Linked DNA regions of Homo sapiens: region 1 is reported to be linked to region 2. Evidence: microRNA targets listed by miRTarBase, many of them from high-throughput screens and not tested one by one. Region 2 holds a microRNA gene; the other region holds the end of a gene's coding sequence.

The links. Region 2 holds the annotated microRNA hsa-miR-4687-5p (CAGCCCUCCUCCCGCACCCAAA, at 3,741-3,762, opposite strand). A microRNA usually pairs through its seed, bases 2 to 8, with sites in the 3' UTR of a target mRNA and lowers its output. Matches are read on the target gene's strand: a 7mer-m8 pairs with bases 2 to 8, a 7mer-A1 pairs with bases 2 to 7 and ends in A, and an 8mer does both.
Region 1: miRTarBase lists ADGRB2 as a target of hsa-miR-4687-5p. Seed matches in the 3' UTR shown: 7mer-m8 at 12,396-12,402.

The regions. Positions count from the first base shown.
Region 1 is chr1:31,714,917-31,728,776 of GRCh38, forward strand. ADGRB2 (adhesion G protein-coupled receptor B2) reads right to left here. Exons shown (of 33, transcript NM_001364857.2): 30 at 13,682-13,717; 31 at 13,266-13,364; 32 at 13,109-13,165; 33 at 12,201-12,689. The coding sequence ends at 12,504. Among named protein-coding and RNA genes, the nearest start is that of COL16A1, 18 kb to the left of the region's middle. RefSeq lists enhancers at 252-546, 406-1,003, 826-935, 1,004-1,599, 8,892-9,393 and a silencer at 8,939-9,139.
Region 2 is chr11:3,852,835-3,859,834 of GRCh38, reverse strand. It overlaps MIR4687 (microRNA 4687), which reads right to left and starts at 3,773; the gene lies at 3,694-3,773. It overlaps STIM1 (stromal interaction molecule 1), which reads right to left and starts at 4,171. Exons shown (of 13, transcript NM_001382567.1): 1 at 3,426-4,171. The coding sequence starts at 3,564. STIM1-AS1 (STIM1 antisense RNA 1) reads left to right here and starts at 4,257. Exons shown (of 2, transcript NR_183662.1): 1 at 4,257-4,478; 2 at 5,177-5,512. RefSeq lists silencers at 1-139, 3,976-4,135, 4,196-4,255, 4,736-4,785 and enhancers at 1-256, 290-469, 3,256-3,305, 3,316-3,395, 3,546-3,755 and 2 more.

The DNA.
Region 1 (13,860 bases), not on the chromosome of region 2:
GCCCCAGGCCCTCCAGCTGTCTACTTGGAAAAGGGTGGAAGCACATGGAGGGTGGGTGTCAGGGTGTGCGGCGCAGGCCCAGAGAATGCGCCCCCCTTCCCCACAAGGCCTGGCAGTTCCAGAGAACTGGGCGCGGCCTCCCAAATAACGACCTCTGTTAAGTGGGACCAGGAGCCTCCCGATGGTCGCTGTGTCTGCCCATTGGACCAGGGGCCAGGGCGGGCGGGGCTTTGGGCGACAGAACTGGCTAGGGTGGGAGAGGAGAGGAAGCTGCCAGGTTCTGGGGATCCCGACCCCACCCCGCCGACAGCCACGCCTCCAGCCCACTCTGGCCACGCCACTGGTCTGCCTTTGGACCACACTCATGGCCGGGTGCCTTCCCTGACTCCGCCCTAGGCCCTGCCTCCTATCTGGCTCCGCCCAGCCCTGGCCAACCTTAGAACCTGTCCCAAGGTCCAGAGAGGCCTAGATGAGGGGTAGCCTGCCTCTGAGAGGCATGGAGCCCTCCTCCCGCGTGGGGTCAGGGAATAGAAGGGCGTCGAGGGTGGCGGGTGAGGGAACGTTCCTGGCGCCGCGAACGGGAAGCCTCCAGGCTGCAGGACGTAGCTGCGGGGACCCGGCAGTCTGCGAGGCTGGAGTGGCCGAGGCCGCCCCGAGCATAGAAACAGCCCTGTATACGTGGGCACAGAAAGGCCCAGGGAGGCGCCTGGGCAGAAGTGTCTAGGACGATGCCTCTGCCACGGAGCCCTGGAGTGGGGGCAGCTGATGGCTCAAGACACATGAGCTCTGGTGGCGAGTACAGGGACGCGGGGTTTGGGGAGGCCCAAGTCAAGGTCCATCCTTCTGGGATGAGGGGCGGAGGATGGGAGGCGGAGCCCGGTCTCCAGGGCACCAGCCCTCCACCTAGCGGGAAGCTTGGGAATCGCGGAGTGCAGAGGTGGGGTGCGGAAAGGGTTCCACCGCGCCTGGGCTCCTTTTTCTCCTTGGAGGTCCCACTGGCGCCTACCCACCACCATCCTGCCCAGTCCGCTCCATCTCGGGGATTCGCCCCAGATAGAAAGGGGAGTCATTCTAACATCTATCTTCCCTTCTTCCCCCCATCTCCAGGTCCTATCCCCTTCCCTTCTTCCTTGCAGTTATCCCTGGGAGCTGCCTCTGCCGGTTCCAGTCCCTGGAACACCTGACAACTGCTCTTCCTGCCACCAGTTTTACCCTCTCCCCCATCCATTTTTCATAGCCATGTGGTGTTTCTTTTTTTCTTTTCTTTTTTTTTTGAGGCAGAGTCTTGCTCTGTGGCCCAGGCAGGAGTGCTGTGGCGCGATCTCGGCTCACTGCAAGCTCCGCCTCCCGGGCTCACGCCATTCTCCTGCCTCAGCCTTCCGAGTAGCTGGGACTACAGGCGCCCGCCACCACACCCGGCTAATTTTTTGTACATTTAGTAGAGACGGGGTTTCACCGTGTTAGCCAGGATGGTCTCAATCTCCTGACCTCATGATCCACCCGCCTCGGCCTCCCAAAGTGCTGGGATTACAGGCGTGAGCCACTGCGCCCAGCCGCCATGCGGTGTTTCTAAACAGGAATCTGGTTGTGTCACTTTCTTGATTAGAATCATTCAATAGCATCTTATGGTCCAAATAGACTCCAAACCTTGACTTGGGACTTGAGCTCTTCACCATCCAGCTCCACCTCCCTCAGCCCCAGTCCCTCTCTGGGGCTTTCTGTGTTCCACCCATACAGGAGAACTGTCAGCTCCTCATCCCTTTTCCAGGAACGCCCTCCCTGGCCTCATCCTTGCTGTCTTCAGGGCTTAGTCTGGCAGAGACTCCACTTCTTGGGAGGCCTTTCCTGAACCCCAGGTCTTAGTTAGGTGCCCCTTGTCTGACCTCCCACCACCCCCAGTATGTGCCTGCCTCTCTCAGAGCAGTCACTGCCTGGGTCTCTAATGACTTATTCACTCCCGTGGCAGGACAATTGATTGAGATATTAATTGCTTTGTTCTCCTGTAGTTTCCCCTCCCACTTGCAAGCTGGTAGCCAAGCCCTTTGATTTTTCTAGCCTCAGGGAACTGTGCAGGGCCAAACGCAAAAAGCTGCTTGAAGTCTGATGGCTTGTCCTGAGTTTGGAAAGAGCTAAACTTCTGGAAGCAGGCGTGCCATGTGTTCCCAAGGGATGGGGAGAAGAGGACAGAGAATTGAGAGGCAGAAGCTAGCTGCAGAGGGTGCAGAAGCTGGGGGTCCTTTGGGTGGTAGGGACCTGTGTCTAGCTCCCTTGACAGCTGATAGCTCCCTTGACAGGTGACAGGAGCTGTGGGGATGTGTGGTAACGCACCTGGGGTGGCTGGAGTGCAAACACTTGGGAACCAGCTTCAGTGCTCCAAAGTAGCAGGGGAACAGCTTAGTCACTGAGCCTCAAGGGACCATATGGACTACTAGGACAATGGACATCTCTGTGTGACCAATGTAGACTGAAGACAGGAGGCACCTCTTCTGTGCCCATGTGCAGGGAGGGCCAGCAGCTCCTTGCACTCGCCAGTGGGAAAGGTGGGAGGGAGCCTTCAGTGATGGTTGAGATTAAATTTTTTGCCAACTCATAGGAAAGCGTTTAGAGTGAGTCAGACTGGAGTTGGTTTAAAGTGAATACAGAAACAGGGTATTTCTTGTTTGTGTGCCAAGCTTCCTCCCTACTACACCTGTCTGTGTGTCTCTTAATACGCTGCAGAGCTGAGACTGTATGTGCCTCATTCAGAATTGTATCCTCAGCACCCAGCGTGGTACCTGGCATATATTGACTGCTCAAAATGTATCGGTTGAATTCGCTTTTCCTCCGTAGCTACAGAAATCCTTCTAAAACCCAAGTCTGCTTCCGTGGTTCCCCTCTGGCCCTCAGAATAAAATCCAAACCCCGATGATATCCCACAAAGCCACTGTGATCTCACCGCCCCGTATCCGCAGCCCATCCTCTCCAGCTGAACTGCACTATTTGCAATTCCCCAAACTTGCCAAGTTGTTTCATGCCTCGTGCCTTTGCTTATGAGGCACCCTCTGCCTGGAGTGCCCTTTCCCCTTTCTCTGCCTGCTGAGCTTTCAATTAGTCTTCAGAGCTCAGTGCAAGTGTTTCCTTGTCTTCCCTGACACCCTCTTCTGAAGGCAGAGGAAACTTCTCCTGCTCTGCAGCCTAATGCTCAGGCCCATGTCTGTCTCCTTCTTCCCCAAGCCTGGTTTCCTGGACTGTGGGCTTCTCTAGTAGAGTGAGTTCCCCATGCCCAACATGGTGCCAGGTACACCACAGGCTCTCAATAAATGCTCACTGTTCACTGGGCTTTAGCCTTGATCCTCCAAGGACTCATGGTGTGACCTCGAGCAACCTCTCCCTTCTGAGCCTCAGATTTCCTTTCTGCACAACGGGAGGAGTGGAACTGAATGTTCTCTAAGGGCCCTTTCTTCCCTCAGTTGAGCCTGGAAATGAGAGCATGTAAAACACAACTCACCTGTGTGCACGGCAGGCCAGCTAAGGGCAGAACATGCTCAGACACAGAGCTGCCCATAGCATCCATGCATGGCCACCTGGGAGCAAGCCCTTGCCCAGACAGCTGCACGTGACAATGTCACACAAAAGTGCATGTGGCCCTCTGGACGTGGATGTGCTGTCCTCCCAACCCCCATCCCCCATCAACCACTGGCCCTGACAGTGAAAAATTCAGCAGCAGTCAGGGATGCCAGTCTGGCAGTGAGTTAATATTCAAGGAAGGAGCCTTCTGCAATATGCATGCCCTGAGGCTGGTGTCCTATGGGGCTCTCCCCTTCCCAGGCCTGCACAGGCAAAGCCCTCCCCACCCCACCACAGGCACAGACACAGACAGTCTGCCTGCGGCAGGGCACTGAGAACTAGACCTTCAGCTCTAATTGCTTCCTGGACAGCCCCCTCCCAATGTCTCCTCATTCATTCATTCAGCAATATCTATGCAGTTCCTATCCTGTCCCAGCAACAGTATGAATGTATGACCCTGTTCTGCCCTCAGGGGCTCATAGTCCAGTGGGGGAGACAGACAATAAATAGGAAACAAGTGATATAAACTCAGATCAGGAGAAATGATACTGTGGAAAGGATTAGGTGATGTGATTTTTAAAAAATGACTTGGTGGGAGAAAGGGGTAGTCAAGGAAGGCATTTCTGAGGAGGTGGCATCTCATCAAAAGACAAGAGCCAGCACAGCAGACAGCCAGGGAAGAGACTTTCAAATTGAGGGCACAGCAAACACAAAGGCCCTGGGAAGGGAGAATCCATGAAATGTGTTTGAGGAGCAGAGAGGAGGCCATGGAGCTGCTCAGACAGTGACAGCAAGTGGCAGGACATTTGGACAGAGCAATGGGCAGGGACCAGAGCATGCCGAGCCTCCTGTGCCACAGTGAGAGCCTTTGTTTTAGTCAAAGAGCAATGGGAAGCCCCTGGAAACAGTATCCATCCCTTCCCCCAGCTCCTCCATCTTGGGAGCCTTCTTAGAGACTATGCCTTCCTCATCTTTACGTTGTCAGTGCCCATCCCAAGGCCCAGCATGGGGTTGACATCAGACACCATTTACTGATAAATAAATGACCAATCAAGTTCTCCTGGCTCAAGGCTTGATTCAATGGCTCAGAGTAGGTCAACAGGGCCAGATTAAGACATTTACATGCCATCCATTGGGAAGAGTCTGGCACTCCCATACATCATTCACAATAGAAATAATACTAATCCATGAAGCATACTTCTTTATGCACATGCTGGAATGAAAACCACTTCCTTTTGGATTTTCAATTGCAAAATTCTGGATTAGTTCATGGAAGCAGAACTTCTTCTTCTTCTTTTTTTTTTTTTTTTTTGGTTTGTTTTTTTGAGATGGAGTTTTGCTCTTATTGCCCAGGCTAGAGTGCAATGACGTGATCTCCGCCTCCTGGGTTCAAGCGATTCTTCTGCCTCAGCCTCCCAAGTAGCTGGGATTACAGGCACCCGCCACCACACCCAGCTAATTTTTGTATTTTTAGTAGAGACGGGGTTTCACCATATTGGCCAGGCTGGTCTCAAACTCCTGACCTCAGGTGATCCGACCGCCTCGGCCTCCCAACATGCTGGGATTACAGGCATGAGCCACCGCACCTGGCCTCAGAATTTCTTTCTGCTTATCTGTGTGTGCACGTGTTGTTACTGTCTTGCTGGCATCCTAAACTGAACTCAGTCCGCCCATTGATCACCCAGTGCTAGATGGCAGGGCTTGCCCAACCATCCCCTCAATGACATGGTCTTGGCTTCTGCACTCTGGATAACGAGGAGGACCAAGGGTGCCGTTGTGGCCCAGGCCTAATTGACAGCAAGCAGCCCTACAGGTAGGAAGAAGGCAGTAGCACTGTCAGCAGGTTTTGGGAGCTGCTCATTGTGAGAACTCTGGGAAATAACCCTCCTTGGACCATCAAGCTTGCTCCTGCCCATCCCTGACCCTCTAAAAACAGTACCAAGTGACCAAGGTCCAAGAGGTCTCTCAGAGGAGGTATCTAAGGCTCAGAGAGGTTACTTAACTTGTCCAAGGTCACTCAGCAAGTTGGAGATGGAGTTGCAGTTGGGACCCAAGCCTGGCCCCTGAAGCAGACTGGAGGCATTCCCTCCCTGGGTGAGCCGGGCTGGGGAAGAATGCTGAGGGGCCCCTATCTGGATCCACAGAACTGATGAGAACAAACTGGAAGTTGGACCCAGCCAAGCCTTTAAATGGGGTCTGCCCTTACCCCAGCCCCTCTTTCGCTACCCAGCTGAGCCCTAAACCTCTAAGCTCAATGCTCCCTCAGCCTCCTCTCTGGGTCCTAGAGATGGACCACATCTCAGGTCCCCCATGTGACTTCCACAGCATCACACAGACACAGAACTGGGCACCCAGGAAGGATCCAGAAGCCGAGTCTCAAATTTGCTCTCACTTCTCTCCCAGTGGCCTATGTCACAGGTGCTAGCCCTCCTTCACTCAGTCAACCCCCAACCACACCTGCTCTATGTATGGCCCCAGAAGGGAATTAGACTCAATGTGGGGGCCTGGGAGAAAAGTTGACCTCCCCTCCCCACTTCACTGACCTCCCCAGGGATGGCACTTAGGAAACTCAGACAAAGCAGCTCAGTGATTCTCAGGGGATTGGAAGCTGGGTGGTTGAGGGGAGCACCTCCACATGCAGGCCAGTTTTCCCAGGCCAAGTCCAGGCTGAGCTCTGCCTCTACTAGGCTGCACCCCACCCCACCCCCAGTGAGTGGGAAGTGACAAATGAGCCTGAGGAAGGAGGAGGGAGCTGGCGATCGATGGCATTAACATGGTGCCCAAATTAAATATTGACTTTCTTGGTTGACTCTAGGGACACTTGGATTGATGGCTGAGGCTTTGCCATGCCACCACAGGGGATAGGCACATAACAGCCTGGAGCAGGTCCATAGGGAAGCTGAGGCCTGGAGAGGAGGGGCTCACCTTTGCTTCCACCTGCTCAGGAGGAGTAGAAGTGAGGGCTTCAGGGAGCCCGGAGCACCGTGCCTGCTTCTCCACCTTCCCCATGGAGTCCAGAGTCCCATCCGTCCCGAAGGTCTTGGAGTCCAGGCCTTGTTGAGTGTCCCCCCAACCCCATTCCCACCTCCAGGAACTGTGGCTAACCTGAAGTGCAACAAATGAGCAGAATCAATCTCTGTGATGATAACCATTACTGGGTCTCAGGACCCGGCCTCCCAAGGCGGTAGGGCTGGTTATTTCTGATCATTATGTAGGATCTTGGAGAGGAGGTAGGGACAGCCTCTCTGTTCATGGAAATCTCCCATCATCCTCTCCAGCTAACTCACCTTCAGAGACTACAGTAAGCCCTGAGCTTTCTCTCCCTCTTTTCTCTTTTTTTTCACCTGTCCTGAACAAAGGGAGTCTCCCTCTTTTCAAAGCTCCACTTTAAGAACTGTCTCTAGTCCCTTGATTTATTCACCTCCCACCCTACTCTACAACCCACCTCAGTGCTGGTTCCTCCCATAGTAATGACTCCAGCCCAGCCCCTCATTCTGAGTTCCAGCCCTGTGTGTTCAACTACCTACTTTCCACTTGACATCTCCCCTTGACCATCTCAAAGTTGACATGCCTGCTATGGTTTGAATGTGTCCCCCAAAAAGCATGTGTTGGAAACTTAATCCCCAGTGCAACAGTGTTGGGAGATGGGGTCAATGGGGGGTGTGTGTTTAGATCATGAGGGCACCGCCCTCATGAATGGATTAACACTGATTATAAAAGAGCTTGAGTCTTTGAATTCAATCTCTTGCTCTCTCTCTCACCCTTCTGCCTTCTGCCATAAGATGATGCAGCAAAAAAGACCTTGCCAGATGACAGCCCCACAACCTTGGACTTCCCAGCCTCCAGAACTGCAATGAATGAATCTCTGTTCTTTATAAATGACCCAGTCTCAGGTATTGTTATAGCAGCACAAAATGGACTAAGACAATGCCCAAGGCCAAATTAATGACTGTCTCCCCCAAAGCTGGTCCTCTTCCTGTACCTCTATGCCAATGACACGGTCATCCATCCAGGTGTGTAAGACAGAAGCCCAGGTGTCATCCTTGGCTCCTCTCTGATACCCAATCCACACCAGGAGCTGAGTGCTGACAATTCTACCCACTACATATATAGAAACTCCATTCCTCCTCCATAGCACCCTCTAAAGTCTCCTTCATGCAGATCATCTCCTTGCTGGTCTCTCTCTCCACCCTCACTCTTCAGTGTCCCTGCCCCCACCAATCCATTTTCCATCCACTCAAGAGAAATCGTGTTGATATAGAAATCTGATCATGCCAGTACTCTGCTCAACACTCTTCCTTAGCTTCCCACTCTCCTTAAAGGCCAAAACCCTCAGTGGAGTCTCCTCTGCCTTAGACACTTAGCATGTGTTTTGAGGGCCTGAGAGGGTGGAAGTCTTCCCAGAGTCAGTGGCCTTGGAGGAGTGGAGGGAGGAATATGATGGGTACTGGGGACTGGATTAGAAAAGCCCCAACTGGGGGACCCCATGAGGTGCCAGGGTGGGCATGAAGAAGCCTGAAGGGAAATGAGTCCTGAGAAGCAGAAGTCAGCAGCATCCCGCACCCAGGTCCTCCCTCAGGCCACCTAATTTCCTTTTAATTGGTGCCTAATGGAAGTGATTTAAGCCCAATTAAGTTTTAACGTGTCTGTTCCAGTCTAGCCTCAACTTGCTTCCCTTCTCCCAGAGTCTAGGGCTGCAGGGGTAAGGGTAAGGGTGAGGGTAAGGGTGACCCCTTCCCCTAGTGCTGCTGAGGGAGGCCTGATACCAGTCCACAGGTCTCCTCAGGACCTTCCCCTACTTCCCCAACACCTCCTCCCTACCCACCAGTATCCCCAGGATATGTGGAGCCCAGGAACCCTGGCTTTGGACCTCCCTTGTGCGGGCACTGTGCTGGCAACTTTCCCTCCATCACCTCCTCAAGCCCTCTCCATGGCCCCATGAGGCAGGCTGTGCGGAAGTACCTCCTTTTCACAGAGGGCACTGAGTTCACTTGCTCAAGGTCACTGCCTTTGTTCTGCCTAGAGCTGTGCTGTCCGACATGGTAGCCTCACGGGAGTACTGAGCAGTCAGAAGGTGGTGAGACTGACTTGAGATGCACTGTAGCACTGTATGTATAAAACACACACGAGATTTCCAAGACTCCGTATAAAAAAAGAATGTTAAATATCTCAGTCATTTTTTATATTGATTATATGTTGAAATGATCGTTTTTTAATATATTGAATGAGATATATTATTAAAATGAATTTCACCTTTTCAAACTTTTAAAGAATGGTTACTAGAAAATTCTAAATTACATATGTCGTTTACATTGTATTTTTATTAGACATCTCCCAGGGTCTGTTCTCATGAAGGTAGGGATGGTCTGCTCATCCTTGACCCTGCCAGTCTGGAAAGCAAGAAAAGGCTGCAGCTGAGCTTGTGCGGGCGGGCCTCTCAGTCTTGTCTCCTCATCCTTTGGGTGAAGACAAGTCCCTTTCAGCACCCTGGACAGCAGCCAGGGCTGGCTTCCCACTTGGGGTTGAGGAAGGAATAACTGTGGGAGGAGTAGATTAACACCTATAAAATGCTTCCCATGAATCATCTTAAGTCATGCTCCGGATATCCAGTGAGGAAGACTGGGTAGGAGTTGTCATTATCCCAATTTTGCAGATGAGGAAATCAATGTTCAGGGAGATTTGTGTATTCCACCCTTCACCCGCTAAAGATTCACTGATGCCTGCTTCATGTGGGCCTCTGAGTGCACAAACCACAGCAAGGCCAACACAGATGACAGCAGTTCTGTGTGATCAGTGCAGTAGTGACAGTGCATGCCAAGGCCTGTGGGGGCCCAGCGAGTGCTGACTGCTGGGCCAGGGAGTTCAGGGACAGCATCACACAGGGGGCTACTTGGGCTGGGTCTGGAAGGCTGAAGGAGAGTTTCCCCTCTGTGAGGAGGAGGGAGTTTCAGGCAGAAGGAGTGGTGCATGCACAGGCATGGAGGTCAGAGAGATGGGCCAGAGGAGGGAGGCAAGGGCCACATCACCAAGGGCCTTGAACTCTAGGCTAATTCCAGGATCCACAGAAGGCATCTGAGCAGTGGCCTGGCCAGATCTGCATTTTGGAAAGATCACTTGGGCCATGTGGATGAAGGGCTGGAGACTGGAGGCAGAGAAAATGAGGGCAATGATGTGAGAAATTTGAGTCCAGGAAAGAAATGACAGGTTGTTAGATATTAGCTCAAATGGAAGGGAGATCGAGCCAACTCATTTTACAGATAGGGAAACCCATGTCAGACAGGGTCCAGTGGCCTGTCCAAGGTCACGCAGCAAGTCAGTGCCTGGGGGAGCAGGGACTGAGGGCAAGGGAGGGACAAAGCCCCCACCCCAGGAAAGCTAAGTGGCTGGTCTCAAAGCCAGCAGAGGCCTCTGCAGGTAGCTGTGGTTTGTGTTTGAGCAGAATCAACAAGGTAAATACTAAACTTCCTCTTCAACCAGATGCAAAGCAAGAATGGACAGGAGGGCAGGGACGTGCACATCACACCTCAGCCCCAGAGGGCCCCAGAGGTGGTGACCAGCGGAGCCTAAGACCAGGAAGGAGGGAGGTGCGAGCACAGGACAAGGCATTAAGAGGGCCTTTAGGTGATGGTCAGAGGAAGGAATGTGGAGTAGGATCTGCTGGTACATGGTCGGGCTTTGTTTGTGCAAACCCCCTTTTAGGAACAGGCCCCCCTTTCTCAGAGACCTGCTCCCTCTCCTCCCTCTCCCTCTCCCCCATGGTTCCTGATGGGACTGCCAATCACAGTGCCCCAGCCTCCTTCCTGGGGCCAGCCAGAGCTCTTCCTTCCTTGGGGGTTTTCTAATTGGAATTCAAGAGAGAAAGTTTCTTCCCCTCTAGGGGCAATGCTGAGTGATCGAGCTGGGAGGAGGAAGCCTGGCAGGCCCAGGGGGAAGAGGCCTTAAAGAATGAAGCCGACACACATTCGAGAGAATGCCAGGAGAGGATGAAACATGCGGTGGCACTCCTGATCCCGGGTCCCATCACGAAGGCCAGCCGCACTTGCCCACTGCTGTCCTTGCGGCAGCGCGCTCCTGGGTGAACAAAGCTCCCAGGTGCCTAAGCTGGCTGGTATCGGATTCTGCCACTCCCAGCCACAAGTCCCAGTCACAAGCTGAGCTGTGGGAGCTTGGGAAAGTCATGTCCCCTCTCCAAGCCTCGATTTACTCATCTCCAAAATGGGGCAGTCACAATACCTACCTTGAAGAATCAAATGAGGTAGTGCTTGAGTGAACTCTGTGTACACTTAAGTGCTGGGGCTGCCCGAAGGGAGGGAGGCGGAGGAGTGAGTCGCAGGAGCTCCAAGGGTCTAGAAGCACAGTCCTGAGTGGACTCTGCCCGCACGGCTCCTCTGACCAGGTCTCACAGCAGGCAGGATTGGAATGAGACCAGAGCAAGCCTGTGCCATCAAGGCCTGCAAAACTCTGAAGAGGCCTCCGCCCCTCCTCCAGCACCCCTGGGCAGGCCATTATCTGTGATACCCCCTACCCCAGCAGCCAGTCACTTCTGTCACTCCCACCCAGGCTGCTGCAGCACCTAACCCTCCCTCAGCTCTCCAGGGACCTGTCTGTGTCTCCGAGTCCCTGGGAAGGGGCCCAGAGGTGCCCATGTTGCTAAATGACCAGGCAAGAAGGACCTGTGACCCTGCTAACCGTGCCTCTGCTCCAGCTGCTGCCTGACTCCAGAATATGTTTCCAGATGTAATCCTGTGCCCCCTCTTTCTGGGGGCCTGAAAACTGAGCAAGGATCCGCTCACTCAGGCATGTAATGAATGCAACTCAGTACAAGCCTCCAGCCCCTGGCACCAAGCCAGCCTGGCTCCCACACCCCACCCCAGCCCTGGCCCGGTCCAACACCTGCATCTCCACCACAACCCAGCATCTGCGGCTCCCCTGCAGCCATGGTCAAGTTCCAGGAAGCTGAGCTGAAGCCCCACCTCCATCAAGCGTGGGTTTGAAGTCCCAGCTCTGCCTCTGACTGTGGCCTTGAGCCGGGCACTGCCCATCTCTGGCCTCATTTTCCTATCCACAAAATGGGCAACCTAAAACCTTCCAACAGGGTTGTTGTGAGGGGCCAGGGGATATGTGTGTGAAGCTCCTAGCTTAGAGCACTGCATGAGACTGGTGCCACATGGTCACAGCTAACCCTTCAAGAGCTTATCCTGTCCCAGGTATTTGCTGAACACTTTACAAATAGGAATTTGTTTCATCCCTGTAACAACCCTGTGAGGTGGGCACTGTTACCATCCCCATTTCACAGATGTGAAACCAAGGTCACTAAGCTCTGTCTTGGCTCTAGCCCAGGAAGTCTGGCCTCTGTGCCCCAGTGAATGGCAGCCACGACCATCACAGCCACCAGGAAAAGCCAGCCATAAGAGGTCCCCTCCCACACTCCCAATCTGCTTCCCACAGCCCAGATCGGGGAAAGGATGAATCACCCAGAGAGTCAGGGACAAAGATGGGGTCAGAGCCTAGGCCGCCCCCTCCCAGGCAGGGCTGGACTGACCCCATCACATCATCTGATGAGATCAAGTGAGTTCAACCCAGGAGACAGAAACAAAGTCGGGGTCCCAGAGCTGGGCCTTTACCTGAGGGAAGCAAACAGCTCAGCAGCAAAATCCACAGAGTGAAGTTTATTCCCAACAAAGTTCCCCTCCCCCCTCCCCAGCCCGGGACAGGGACGGACAGGCTGGGCTGAAGATGGGGTTCCAGTGGCTGAGGGGCCTCTGAGAAACAAGGAAGGGCCCTGGGACCCCAGGCCAAGCCATGTCCGGCTCCCCCAGCCTGGCTGAGTCCACGGCGCCTCCCTGCCCAGCCCTCGGGAGAGGGGAGAGGGCGCTGGCTCCTGGGTAGTTCCAAAGTGGAGTGTGAAAATAGAGAGATATATATATTTATATGCAGTGGGCAGTCCAGCGTGGCACTCACACCTCTGTCTGGAAGTCACCATCCGGTGGTTCTGTGGGCTCCCAGGCTGCTGCCCGGTGCAGAGTCAGCCGTTCTCGGGGCTTGGGGGGCAGCGAGCCCAGTGTCATAGATTTGAAGGTGCTCCAGCTCTGATGGCGCCGATGTTGGGACAAGCTGGGGCGCTCCCCAGGGCTGGGCTTATCCTGTGGAGGGAGCGGGAGGGGCCGTGGAGATGGGCCAATATCCTTACCCATTGTACAGACGATCAAACTGAGGAGTCCCAGAGAGGGCTGGTAATGCCCAAAGTTATGGAGCAATCAGGTGTCAAGCAGAATTCAAATACAGACCTGCCTGGTTCCAGGGTGGGGCTCCTGACCCCTGTTCTCAGTGGCCCCCAGGACATGTCTCCTGCTGACCACTCTCCCTCCCAATCCTGGAGGACCTCCACCCCTGTTCGCCATCTGCAGCACCTTCCCCACCCCCAGGCGGCCCCAGACTGTTGCCCATGCCGTGGGGGAGGCCCTTGGTGAGACAGGCTGGGGTTGCCTGGGAGGGGCAGGAGGGCAGGGAGGGCACGGGTCCCTCAGGCCCACCTCACCCCACCCAGCCCGGGGGGACTCACGGTGCACACGCTCCGCTCGGCTGCCCCACCCGAGGACACACTCCACCGCTTCTCCCTCTGCAACGGGGGCCACCGGTCAGGCTCCAACCCCAGGGGCCACTGCACCAGGTCAGGCCCTGAGCTTCAGGGCAGGGGCAGCCACGGGAGGAGCCCTCACCTTGGCCGTGGACTGGCTGCGGTAGCGGTCGAAAGTGTGGAACTTCTGGTTGAGCTCGTGGTAGAGTTCTGAATGCCGTTTCCGGGTGTGCATCACCTTCTAGGGGCCACAGGGCATCAGAGGGTCGCTCCCCGGGGCAGCACCATGATCCCCCCTACCCAGGGCACTCAGCACCCCAAGCCCCCCACATCCCTCCCTGCTGCCAGCCCCTCTGGGACAAGACCTAGTTCTCTCTTCACGTTGGTGCTATGGGCTTGGGCAGGGAGGGAATCATGGGAAGATCCCACGGAACCCCCGGGCTTGGGCTCCTGGGGTCAGGCTCTGCAACAGAGCTTGGACTACTTTTAGGAGTGAGCCCTCCAGGGACAGACACCACAGCCAGATGTCCCACCGCCCAGCACACACATGGCCCTTACCTCAAAGTCCAGGTCTGAATACCGTAATTTCTTTCGCTGGGAAGGAGCAACAAGGAGGCAATGGAGGAGAAGAAAGCTTTTTACCACCGGCAGGGGCTTTAGAGACAGGAAGCCTGGCATCCCAGGGGTCTGCCCGCTGCACCTTCCCCCCAACCCAGGCCCAGAAGTTGCGGACCTTC
Region 2 (7,000 bases):
CTCTCCCCAGGCCCCAGTATTAGCTTCAGCCAAGCCCCACCTACCTGCTCTTGGCCCCAGCCCAGTTCCGGGAGCCACCCTCAGCTAAAATTAGCATAGCTACCAAGATGGCCAGGCCATTTATAGCCTTGGAGGCAGCAGCAACTAGCTGGGGGAGGGAGGCAGGGTTCTGGCCTGCCACTCCATCAGAGGTTGATTGAGAAGCCAGCCTGCACTCTGCACACTGCCTAGATGCCTATCCTCCAAGGCCCTGTCCTAGCTACACTGAACTAAACCACAGTTCCTGATTAGAGGCCCTCAATACCTCCAACACTGGCAGCCATAACTCCAGACTCCACCTGAGGTCCCTCATGCACATTCTACAGAAACCATTGTTGTTTTCTAGAGTCTAAGGACGGTTCCAAGCATCCGTATCAGGCCAGCTTCAGAAACGCAAGCCCCAGAGTAGCACAGGCAGGCACAGATCTTTACTGAGAAAGTGACCTAGCATGGCTGGGTGTACAGGTATTAAAGAGCCAAAGGGTGACAGGAATGGCCTCTCCACGGCCCAGTGAGAGATCCTCCTTGTAGAGCACCTGCCTTCACTGCAGGATCAGGCTTTCATAGTGTTTATTGTATGCATGCTAAAGCCATAAGCATTTTAACTAAATCAATCTTAGGATCAAATATTTTAACTAACTAAAAAGAGACAGATGGGTATATACATCCAAAAGAGAAAAAATCAAATTCTCTGGGCCCCTGCAAAAGACTCTCCAGAGCAGAAAAAAAGTACAGCCCTTTTCTTGGCTCTCAGCTACAGAGTCACCAAGGCCTGCCTAATTGTCAGAAGGAAAGCAACATTCTCCAGCCCTGCCTAGCACTCCTTTAACAGGGCAGGACCTGAGAAGATGGAAGAAATCCAAGACTTAAGCATCAGAAGACCTGCCTATAAGAAAGACCAAGCACAGGACCAGGTTTCTTCACCCATAAAAATGGGGACAATACCACTTGCCCTGCATTGTAACAGGGCTATTGTGAGACTCTGTTGGAAAAACAGCTATGTAATTGTAAAATACAAACTGCAGAGAACACACAAATTGACTGGGTATGTTGAATCTGATTTTTAAAAGTAGTAGTTTTAAGAGCAAGTAAAGCTCCTCCTGTGTTCTGGGGATACAGAGAGGCTGGAAAGGATGCAAGAGTTCCTAGTTGCATAGAAAGTTTCTCTCCAAACTCTTTTGCAGATCCCAGTCTATATGAACCACCTCTTTGCAAAAACAAGTCCCTGACTGAGTCAAAGACAAAACCCCAGGTAGACCCAAGGGGAAAACCTACCACAACAATAGTGCTAGAACCTCCAGGTTTCCACAAACCTTAGGCATTCACAGCACCTAGGGTCTCTCTGAGACTTTCCTCCCTGGAATTCACTATTATTGTGACAACAGAAACCAGTTTCTAAACTGAGCATGAGTAGGCCTAAGTGGTATAATCAGCATAGCCAGGCCTCTGAAATATATGTTGTGTGAAGAATTGTCTCCAAAAGCTCAAGTCATGGGGTGGTCCTGAGGAAGGCTAGAATGCCTTTTACTTCAGGCGAAAAACAAAAAACAAAAAAAAAAAAACCTTCCTAATAGCCAGCCAATGTCTACATTCAAAATTTCATCCCTTTAGCTTATGTCTAAAATATAGAACACCCACTCTCCAAAAAATATTCATCTTATGTCAGGCACTCATATTTTGGAGTGAAAAAAGACATATTATCAGTTATAAATAGGAATGTCACAGGGACAGGAAGAGATGATAATTAGGTCTACTTCACAGTTCAATCTACATTTGCCCACTAGTCTTTCCCTTCATAGCCCAATAAGAACCAAGCTTTCAGCCAGGTCTCAAAGGTCAAGGAGACTCTCTATGGAGAGACAGGATTAATAGGCAAAAAGGATCTATCTAGAAAGCAACAGCCAGGTATCCTACTTACACATGGGCAACCCTGGCCTCATTTGGAAACCAGACCTCTTGGAACATCTGGAACTTAAAAGGGTATTGCCCAATAAAGGGTCTACCACCAAAGCCAGCTTCTGGATCCATCCATGAAACTCCCCAGCCACCATGACCTATATTTCCTTTTCTGACTTGTATCAGCAGGTGCCCACTGAGCCATTCCCTCATTTGAACTTGCTTATGCTCAGAAACAACTCATCTATAAACTCTCCCCACACTGCAGGTCACAGCTTTGGGCAGATCACAGCCAAAGGGTGAGAGAAATGGGAAAAGAGAACTGATCTCGTAAGCCTTATGTAAAATGACTGGATTTTAATAGAGTTCCTTGATGGGTACAGTGGCTCACACCTGTAATCCCAGCACTTTGGGAGGGATCCCTGCACAACACAGAGAGACAGTGTCTGTTCAAAAAATTAAAAATAGAAAGAAAAAAAAAGTTAGCCAGGCCCAGTGGCTCTTGTGTTTAGTCCCAGCTACCGGGAGGCTGAGGCAGGAGGATCACTTGAACCCAGGAGTTTGAGGCTGTAGTGAGCTGTGATCACACTACTGCATTCCAGCTTGGACGACAGATCAAGACCCTGTCTCAAAAAAACAAAACAAAACATAAAAGTGTTCCTTTCTACTGCAAAAGTATACCAGGGCTCCTGCTGCCTGATAAGCCTTCACAACTGCATAGGAAAAACCATGACAGATCAAAAGTAGCATGGTTTCCCTAGCAAGCAGACTCAGGGAAAAAAAAAAAAAAACAAAAAAAAAAACCTGTAGCATGGAATTCCCACCCTCATCAGTCAGAAGAAACAGAATAAGTCAACAAGTGGTCCCAGGAATTATATCATGTCTATGTCAAGAAAAGGCCATTTAACACCCTAGTTGTAAATAGGATTCCATCTAAGAAACCGCCTGGATATTTCAAATGCGCACAGCAAAGAGACAAGACTACCTAAGGGAAGGGTGGGACTAGGGTTCCCACGGTTGTTGGAATAGGCACACCTGAACACCAGGCTTTCAGGCAACAGAGGTGGCCCAGCCTTAACTTTCCCTTTCCAACATAAGTGGCCCCAACCTCCCCCATGCTGCTCAGTACTAAAACCGAATAGGAGCAATGAACTTATCATCTCACCAGGCCATTCTTCCAGACAAGTAGGCCTAAGATGGGGTCTTTCCTTGCTGATCTAAAAGGTCAAGTTGCCCCAAAGGCTTCTTCTTACTGCCAACAAAAAAAATCCTGAGTGCGGGGGATGAGGAAAGTTGTTCAGGAAAGATACAGGCATTTGCCATGACTACTGACCAGAAAGAACTTCTTGAACTACTTGGAACAGGCAGTGCCATGTGTGAATCCTCCATGAACCTCACATGTACAAACCTAGATTTCAACTTGCCCACTTCGGGCCACTCAGTCCTGAGCCAAAGCCTCCAGCCCAGTCCAGCCCGCAGCAAGGCCTTACCTGCTGCAGTGGACTCCTCAGAGTTGGCCCCCGAGCTGGTTCCTGTCGCCTTCTCACTGTGACTATGGCTGAGGCTCTGGCCCTGGTGCAGGAGGAGTCCCCAGAGGAGCCACAGGGCAAGACGGACGCATACATCCATGACTCTAGGTCTCAGTCAACATGCGTCTGATGTGGACACCTCGGGATCCCAGAGGCAAAGCCAGGAGCCCGGGAGTGCAGCCGACGGTCTCCAGGCAAGATGCCCTCGCGGCTCCGCAGCTGTCCAGCCACCCGCGAGCCTGCCCCCTCCAACAGCCAAAGGTCAAGTGCTCCAAGTTTGGGTGCGGGAGGAGGGCTGGCTCCTCAGGTCCAACAGTGGGTCCGCCGGGGCTGCGGCGGCCTGAGCTCGTGCCGCTTCCGGAGACTTCGGGCAGGGTGGCTGCGGGGCTGCTGTCAGCTCCGCAGATTACTACACCCCTGCGGAAGGGGGCGGCCGGAGTCTCCGCGGGCACAGAAGTGGAGGAGGAAGAGAAGAGAAGAGAAGAGAGGCGAGAAGGGGGCACCTGACCTCGCCCTGCCGAAGAGCGGCGAGCAGCAGAAGCTGGGGAGGGCGTGCGACCCGCAGGGTCCTGAGGGCGCGGGCGTCTCCGGGATCCTGGGCCTCCTAGGCCGAGGTCAGCGCCCCCGCCCAGTCCCGTGCCCAGGCGGCTGGCGGTGCCCAGGTCCAGCAGGCGGACGCACACCGGCCAGGCCCAGGACAGCGGCTTCCAGGCGGGCGGGCGGCGCGGGGCGGGCCCGGGGCGGGCGGGGGCGTGCGTCTCCGCGCCCGCCCCGCGCCGCCCGGTCCCCAGCGAAGCCCGGGCCAGCCCCAGCGCCCAGCTGGATCCCGGAATAACCGGTGAAGACGGCTCCCCGGAATCCCCGCCCCTAGCGGGCTCTCCCGGACCCCCGGCCCGCGCTAGTCTTTGCCAGGATCCCGCGCAAAGGATCAAGTCCCAGCTTCCCTTTCCCCACCGAGAGTCTCCAGCGCCAACCGCGGGCCGTCGGGCGGGTCCCTGACCCGCAGTTACTCAGGTAACTCAGGCCTGCGGCGGCGGCGACAGCAGCTGCCCTGCCCCGATCTCCGGGCCTTGGTGCTGCTCCACTCGCCTCAGTTCTAGAGCTGTCTAAACAGAGGCCCAGGACACGACGTTAGCCTCCCAGGAGCTGCCTGAGGCGACAACAGCCTGACCCGGCTCGGCCCGGGGGCGAGCTCCCAGCCCCCAACTCCCGGCCAGTTCCCAGGCTCCGCCCTCGCGCCTCGCCTGACAACCAATCGGCTTCCGCCTCTCTGCGGCTTGGGAACCCGCGCGCTTCGTCGCCCATGCGCAGCGGCCCCTGGTGGGAAAATCAGCAAACTGCAGACAGGACTCGGCGCTCCTGGGAGGGCCTGCTCTTTTGCAGAGGGTTGCCGAGTGAAGCTAAGACCCGCCCCGGGGGAGGCCCACGAGGGCCACTGGGGCCTGCGAGTGTTTTCTGAGGAAATGATGATGCCAGAAAGCAAAATGAAATGTCCAAACCACTCTAGCTAAAATTCCCCTACACATTCCTTGAGTCTGGGCTAAAGGGTGCCATCTGCTTTCCCGACCCCGCCTCCCTTCCCCTCCAAGCTAAGTGGGATGCCCTCCCTTAGCTCTCACAGCCCTTTTTCCTACCTGCCCTCAAGCTCTCAGCCCTTTAAGGTTTTTCGGTGGGGCCTGTAAATGCTTCCTCCCTGCATCTCATTCTCCCAGCTACCTCTCTGGTGGAGGAGGTGTCAGCGACTTGAGAATGAGTGCGCCAAAGAAGACAGAGCCACGCCTGAGCCTCCTTCAACAAAGCCTGCACTTCCTGTTCTCTTCTCAAGCGTGCTGTCAGCAGATCTTGACTGAAACCTCTGTGCCCTACCCTGTCCTTGGCACCAGACGCAGGGGAAAGGATCAGGCCCAGTCCCTCCTCTGACTGACAGTGCTAAACCAGCTACCTGTTCTGAGCAAGGCCCCTGAAGACTGGGAACACGAATTTGCCCAACAGCTGCCTGGCTTAAGGGTTAGGCCGTTGATATAAAAATACATGGCTAATGTAACCTACTACCACTCTCCCGGCTCTGTTAAGCTCCTGTCACACTAGCCTTCGTTAAGTTCCTAACCACGTCAAACTCAGCCACCTCACAGCCTTTGTATCTGCTGTTGCTTCTGCATGAAACACTCTCGCCTGCTCCCAGTTCCTCATGTAGCTGGTCTCTTACTCTTCCAGATACAGCTCAATGTGTCTCCTTAGAAACTTTTACTCTGCCCACCCCTTCAAAATCAGTCTGTGGCCAAAATTGGACCATTACATCTGTCTGCCCCTCCCCCAACAGATAGTGATTGCCACTTTTCAGGTCAGAGACTGTGCCTTATTCATCTCTGTGACACTAGGACCCAGCCATAGACCCTGCACATAGTAAGTTCTCTGTAAAAGCTGGATTACATGAGTTAATTCACTTGAACACTCAGATACTAAAAACTAATACCGGAATATTGGAAAATTGACCAGAACAGTTGAAACCCTACCTAGGTTCTCCTAGACCTATTCTCTGAGCCAGGGGTCTTAAATTCAAATGGCAAAATGGGCAGGTAGGTAATTCAATTAAGAAAAGTAGGTAGGAGTAATACGGAGTGGTGGGGACTGTGGAGAGCAGGCAGAAAGATGGGCCTAGTATTGCTGGAGTGTCATTAAGAGAAGATGGGGCTGGGTGCAGTGACTCATATCTCTAATCCCAGCACTCTGGGAGGCCAAAGTGGGAGGATTACTTGAGCCCATGAGTTCAAGACCAGCCTGGGAAACACAGTGGGACCCCCATCTCTACAAAAAAAATTTTTTTAATTAGCCATGAGTGGTATCTGGCTTCTGTGGTCCCAGCTACTCAGCAGGCTGAGGGGGGATGATCGCTTAAATCCAGGAGCTCAAGGCTGCAGTGAGCCATGATCACACCATTGCACTCCAGCCTGGGCAACAGAGCAAGACCCTGTCTCAATTAAAAAAAAAAAAAAAGAGAGAGAGAGAAGATGGAAATCTGGACTTTCATATGACATATCCTTTTTAAAAAAATATTAGCAATTCGTTTAAAAGGATAAAACCTTATATAGGCCACAGAAAACATGTCTGCAGCCCAGATTAATCACTCAGACTGACAGTTGATCATTTCTACCTAAGCCAGCTCTCCTGCCTGTGCACTCATTTGCCTAAGAGAACATGAAAGAAATGAGCAAAGTAAAGCATGTTTAACACAATTTCCTTCAAACTCGACTACAGCATTTCTTTTCACCACCATATGATTTCTTCGGGGTTATGGGTGCTTATCTATTTGGTACAACAAACAGATCTTGGAGGCAGGAAGCCAGGGTCTGTTACCAATTTACACCAAGACCTTAAACCTCTTGGAAGCTGTCGAATTTCCTGTGACGCTAAAATGGTGTCTAAGAACTAACAATAGTTACTATGATGCACCAATTTCAATGGTGGGTGTACACCCAGAAAATGTAAGCAGGGTCTTGAAAATTGTACACCCATGTTCATAACAGCATTATTCACAA